Homo sapiens: one gene and its partner. The protein of the gene in region 1 purifies or fractionates together with the protein of each later gene. This does not show direct contact. Each region holds a gene or a part of one and is shown on either strand. Other genes may lie near its edges.

What was found.
Region 2: the proteins of NPAP1 (region 1) and ITGA8 purify together in Homo sapiens (affinity purification with mass spectrometry; one large-scale study listed by BioGRID and IntAct). This does not show direct contact.

Annotation. Positions count from the first base shown.
Region 1 is NC_000015.10:24,681,010-24,683,904, forward strand, and holds the end of NPAP1 (nuclear pore-associated protein 1), read left to right. Parts: 3' UTR 1-2,384; downstream 2,385-2,895. UniProt on the Homo sapiens protein: May be involved in spermatogenesis.
Region 2 is NC_000010.11:15,608,286-15,612,120, reverse strand, and holds part of ITGA8 (integrin alpha-8 isoform 1 preproprotein), read left to right. Parts: intron 1-3,830; coding exon 3,831-3,835. UniProt on the Homo sapiens protein: Integrin alpha-8/beta-1 functions in the genesis of kidney and probably of other organs by regulating the recruitment of mesenchymal cells into epithelial structures.

The DNA of each region.
Region 1 (2,895 bases):
ATGAGCAAAGACCTTTCCAGATAATAGGAGTGGTCATTGCAGAGGCTCAAAGGAAGGATCCCTGGTGTCCTCATGGAGCAGTTAGTAAGGAAATGTGGCTGGAATGGAGTCAGCAAGTGGGAGGGAGGGATAGAGAAGAGGACAGAGGAGAGATGTGAGTGGAATTCCTTCCTCCACTTTTTACTAATTGTGTAATAACAGTTGACTCAAACTTCAAAAGTCTCAATGAAATCAGTACTTTTACTATGGCCTGTTTATCTCATAAGATTTTTGAAAGGATAAAATGAAATAATATGGAGAAATGACTTATAAGCTTTTGTTGTAATTTGTTATATACATAGGGATGGATAGACGGATGGATAGATTAGATGATAGATAGATAGATAGATAGATGATAACGTTATGGACTGAATGTTTGTGTACCCCCAAAAATTGATATTTTGAAGCCTAACTTCCAGTGTGATGGTATTAGGAGGTGAGGCTTTGGGGAGGTGATTAGGTTTAGATGAAGTCATGAAAATGAAACCCCCATGATGGGATTTGCGCCTTTATGAGAAGAAATACCAGTGCTTTCTCTAATTGCCATGTGAAGGTATACCAACAAGGTAACAGTCTGTAAGCCAGGAAAAGAGTCCTCACAAGAAACAGAATTTGTCTTTATCTTGGACTTCCTAACCTTTAGAATTGTAGAAAATAATTGAATGTTGTTTAAGCTACCAGTCTGTGGCATTTTTTGTAGCAATCAGAACTGACTAATAAAGATAGATAGATGATAGATAGATACATAGATAGATGATAGAGATAGATGATAGATAGATAGATAGATAGATAGATAATATACATATATATGTATGGTCAATGACTGAGTTCCTTAGGCAATGGTGCCCTGATTGCCTTTATTAGGCAATTCAAATAGAAGAATAGAAGAACCCCCTTTTTTTTTTGAGATGGAGTCTTGCTCTGTCACCCAGGCTGGAGTGCAGTGGCGTGATCTTGGCTCACTGCACGCTCCACCTCTCGGAAGAACCCCTTTTTATTAGCATAAAAGCACTTACTTTTATGAAGCAAACACATGTAAAAATATGATAACAGAGACTAAAACATTTATGAGATTAGGCCTGAAAGAAAACAATCACAGAGAAATTACTGAATTCCTCTTGGCACCCTGGGGCCTGATTCATTCGCTCTAAATTGTTTAGTACAGTTCCAGAGGATCAAAGCTCCTGTTTCCTGGCCAGATAATCACCTAACTTTTGTAATCAGAACTGCCTTTCAGAAGTAGAGTGGAAATCCAGTTTTCTTCTAATAGCCCTATACCCTTGCAGTATTACCAGGGACAAATTTTTTAAAATTCATACTTCTTGACATTTTTTAAAAGGCTTCAAGCTAAATATTATGATCCTGGTAAGACAAACTTTGAATAAATGTGTGAGAGATACAAAGATAATTTTTGTTTTCATGTTTTGATGCACTTACACAACTGAAACTATTTCTAAATATTCTTTTATTTTTTATTAAGATAAAAAGCAAACATAATATCAATTTAAATAATACTGAAAGTCAACCTTCCTACCACAGTTCCCTCCTCCAGAGATAGTGTTTAGCTACTTTGATGTCACTCCCATAGTTCTGAGTTTGCTTTTTTACTTCAACTATTATGTTATCTTACAGATGTCATTGTTTTTCCTAAAACTTGAAGTGCCTTCCTTTTTTTCTCCTTGAACTCTTTTCCCATAAAAAAAAAATGTTTTTGGTTTCTAGAATTTTCAAATAGTATTGTTTACTTGACTGAATCCCTTCCTTTTCCAGAAACCTTGAGCCTCCTCCACTGGTTTGGGAGTGGTAAGACCAAAGTAAATGTAAAAAGTAAAGTAGAGGTTCCTCTTCAAAGACTTTCCTCCCTATCTAATTAGAAATAAGTAGTAACTTCTTTTAGAAGCAAAATGTATTCACAGACCTGTACTAACATTCTTAAATATCTGCTAGTCATAATAAAGAAATCAATGTACTTTATGTTCTTAGCTCCCACAATTTAGCCTAAGTATTTGCCCTGGCATGCTTATACTGGTCCAAGCATTAGGTCATAGCCTGTTCCTCTTCCTTATTTAGAAGTGTTTTTACCTTTCTCAGCATTCCACAAGTTACTTCCTCATTCCTTTGTTCTCCTCTACCTTTGCCTCTTTTAAAAGTTCTAAATTGCTAGCCAATCGGGACAAATACAGAATGTGAGGTCCTGTTCCAGCCAATGGAAACCGGACACAGCAGTAGGGTGGACGCGTCAGGTTATAAATGACCCTGTCTCCTTTGTTCGGTGTACTCTTGTGGCAAAACTGCTGGCAAGTGTACCCTTTCTGCAGGAAGTAAAAATGGCCTTACTAAATAAATTTATGTTCAAGTGCTATTTCTTTACGACACCGAGGAACAAGCATTTCAAACATAAGGACATGGTCTCAGAAGAAAGAGGCCTAAAGGAGCCACCCAAACTGCTTTTAGTTTAGCCCAGAAATGCTCACTAATCAATAATTTTTAAAAAATGTCTAATTCTGGCTGCATCATCCTAATTTCCTGAATCTATGGTAGAGCCAGGAATCTGGATTCCAGGCAGCACTCTAGGGAGGTATGATGCAGACAGTCCATGTTTCCTATTATTCCAAACACTGCTTCACACCTTACATGAGAGCTCACCAAAGTCCTCATTCATCTCATAAGATAAAAAAATTTGTATAGGATGTGGTTCCAAAGCCCTAATTAGTAATAAGCAGAGTGTTTTCCTTACATCTGTGTCTCATGAACTAGAAAATGGCCTGCGGAAAATTTGAGAATTTCCAACTCATGGATGCATGTCTTTCTTGCTCTAAATATCTTCATGTTAGAGGTCTAGAAACTGCCCCCAAC
Region 2 (3,835 bases), on another chromosome or scaffold:
ATAGTATAATGAAAACCTGATCTGAGAAAATATGTCAGAGAGCCAGCGTTTATCCTTACCCCTGCATGATTAAATGAACAATGAACTGTGAGAGTTGCTACTTGTTCATGAGTATTAAAACTTCAGTATTTCCCCCAAATAGGCTCATGTTCACACCTTCATAACAGAATGGACTTCTAGGCTGAATTCCTTTAAGCACATGTGGTACACTCTGATATAGAATGTTGTTGTTTTGAACTAGATAATTGATTCTAAGGGTTTTTAGTTTAATGCATATTTGTATAAGACTGAAGTGTGTGGTTTTTTTTTTTTTTTTTTAACCAGATTAAGAGTTCTGTTTGGGGCCGGGCGCGGTGGCTCACGCCTGTAATCCCAGCACTTTGGGAGGCCAAGGCGGGCAGATCACGAGGTCAGGAGATCGAGACCATGGTGAAACCCTGTCTCTACTAAAAATACAAAAAATTAGCTGGGCGCGGTGGCGGGCACCTGTAGTCCCAGCTACTCAGGAGGCTGAGGCAGGAGAATGGCATGAACCTGGGAGGCGGAGCTTGCAGTGAGCTGAGATCGCACCACTGCACTCCAGCCTGGGTGACAGAGGGAGACTCTGTCTCAAAAAAAAAAAAAAAAAAGAGTTCTGTTTGGTTTTATGGAAAGAATATTACTTTTTAACAAGAAAATGTCTTTCTTTTCATGAGCCATTTTCTTACTGCATTTAATCATATTATTAAGATAAAGTGCAATTTGTTATGTGGACAAATGTATATCCCTTTACAATTATATTTGTTTCTATTGCATACATTTTTCTGGAAGAAGTCTTATTTTCACATGCAAAATTTGTGAATGGTGCCTCAGAGCCTCAGAAGACAGAAAGTTAACAGCTGGTTCAGTCTAGAATGTGTTTCTTTGATTCTCTTTTTTCTTTATTTTAGGAACTTAGCTTAGTTTTTCCAAAATGATTGAAAGGTCTCCGTTGATTTTCTCTGCTGTTATTTGTGTCTGTATTTGATATAACTTTATATCATACATCTGAAAACTATCACATAAACTCTACTTGGCAAATAGTTCTTCACTTCCATCGATGTGGATTTCTGTGTCTTTCAAACAGCGGTGTAGTTTTATAAAGTATCTATCTTTAATTGGTATTTCTAAGTTAGAAAAAGGGGGAAAAAAGCCAGCTCAATAAATATTAATATAACTGGTGACTAACCAATTACAAAAAGAAAAACTAGCGAAATACTTCATTTTAGAAATGTAAAAGTGAGTAACGACCCAGTTGTCCAACCTGATTAAAAAAACTTGTCAGATGTGAGTGACTGTGTGAAACCTGCTATTTGCTATCACTGAAATAGGAGTGAAAACTGATGAGAATGTAAAATGAATTGCTTTGTACTTTTAAATCGTGTTTCACATTTATCTCATTTTCTCTTCATCATAGACAGCTGTGAGCACAGTCACAACGCAGAATCATTATTCCAACCGTGCTTGGGTTGGGACTAGCCTCAGAAGATCATGTAGTGTATCACCCTGCCTTCTGGCCATATCAAAAGCACTGTCCACAAACAGTTTAATTTAGAATTTATGTAATAAGGGACTTGGATTGATTTGATGGGTTTTTTTGTTCCAATCAGACCTATTTAGACTAATGGGCCATACTGAAAATGACCAATATTTCTAGTTTGAAATTTTAATTCTAATTTAATGAAAGTTTACAGCTTTCCCTAATGACCCAAGTATACTTTGTAATTAGCTGTAGGCCTGCAAGTGATCCTAATTCTATGCTCCATATGACCTGTGATGTATGTGTGCTTATATATAATATAGTATGTTTTCCTAAATTCAGCATGAACACATCAGCCCACTACTATAAAATCTTGAAATTTTCTTTAGATCATAACACAGAGTTTGAAAAATTATGACTTCACAGACTCTTTTCCACTAAAGTAATCTATTAACTGGCAGGTTTAGGTTGGAGTGCTATTATTGAGAATTCAGTACATTGTAGCAGTGATATTACACTTGTATGAAAAAAAAGTTAAAGTCATCCATTTGGTAATGATATTCAGAAAACAGAAAGAGTGAGCTAAGAAAGAAATAGAGATTTATACTGACAGGTAATTCATAAATAAATAGTAACCCTTTAGCTGATAACATCATTTATCAACTATATACCATCCCATAAGGAAAAAAATGTTCATTTGTATAACTTTATTCCTTTTTAAAAATTAGTTATTTTGAATTGTTTGTATTAAAAATACTGTATCTAAAATGATTTTAATGTATATATGTTGATAATGTCATTACAAATAGGAATTTATTTTATAAAAGCTAATGGCTTTGGTCTACACAGTTAAAGATGAATGGAAAAAAAGATCATTGGCTGATTTGAACATACACCAAAATACTTTCAAAAAGGTTGGATACAGAAAAATTCTAATTTTGAAAGCCAGGCTTACTACAAAATTGAAAGATGTGATTAACTCTTCATCTTTCTTGAATAATTCTAATTGAAGCAGAAGCAAGTTGGAATCAGTGATTTCTCTGGGGAAGCGGAATAAACACTTGTAATAGCGTAGACATTTCAGGAAACTTTTGGCTTAATGGTATGTGGCAAATTATTTACCCTGAGGGGAGACATTGACTGAGGTCACAGCAGATAGATGAATCCCAGATGTGACACTTTTTCATTATATTTGACACAGGAAGCTGACACATAATTAAAGTATGATTGGGGATTATTTACTCCCTTTGAATTCTGTAGAAATATCCACATCATACTATAGTATTTTACTGGTAAAAGTTTATGACTGTCATTAAACCATACTTAAGTATTTTCTTATATTTTCACTTTCCTAGAAATGTGAAAAGGCCCCATCTCTAGTGATAGCTGTTAGGGCTTGGAATTTTTCAGGGAGAGGTGAGCACTTTCATTCAACAAAGGCAGCCAGGGAGTCAGTCGTCTCTCATTCCATCTGTAGCCACAGACCAAAGCCAAGTGCAGATCATCCTATAAGCCAGTGCAGACATTGCCTTGAATGGTAGTGATGGTGTGTTCAAGGCACAACTCCAAAGTGTCTCTCATGGACATCTGCCCTCTCTTGATTGTCTTTATTCCTATATCATTGTGCCCACCTAGCTTGAGACAGCCATGCTAAACTTCCTGTTTTCTCTTTCTCCCCTCCCTCTTCTCGTCTCAACCTCCAGTCTTACCCCAACTGTAGCAAGGTTCTGCCAAATTTCATCTCCTTCCAAGCAGAGTGGGTGTTTTAAGTTAAGCATACCATGTGCTCCATGCTTCTGAAGATTAAATCTGCATTTTTTAGCATGACTTTCAAAGCCCTGTTCCTCACCGATCCACCAAGCCAGCCTTGCCTCCTACAACTTTGCCATCTTGCTCAGTGCCCCGACTACACTGAATTTCTTCAGTTTCCTCAAATGGGTCCAGATTCTTACTCACCTCCAGATTTTACCTCTGGCTATCCTCTTGCTCTGCTGCCTAATTCTTCCCTCCCTGGCACATGGAAGATACTGACCTGTATTCATTGAATAAAAGCAACAAGTAATTGACTAATTGAGCAACTGATTAAATCAGTTAACCTCCTGTACTATTTTCCAGTATTACCTTCCATGTAATAATAATGTCACTTGTCTTGATTGTATTAGTGTTGAGATCAATTGGTAGAAGGGGTGTGTGTGTGGGTGTGTGTGTGTGTGTGTGTGTAATTAGAAATATATAGAGAAAATGATATTCGTTATCTGGGATTAGGTAAAGGAAGGCTTCTACTTTAGATTCAAAACTTTATTAACCAATAAATTACTACTATTTTCTATAGCTTTT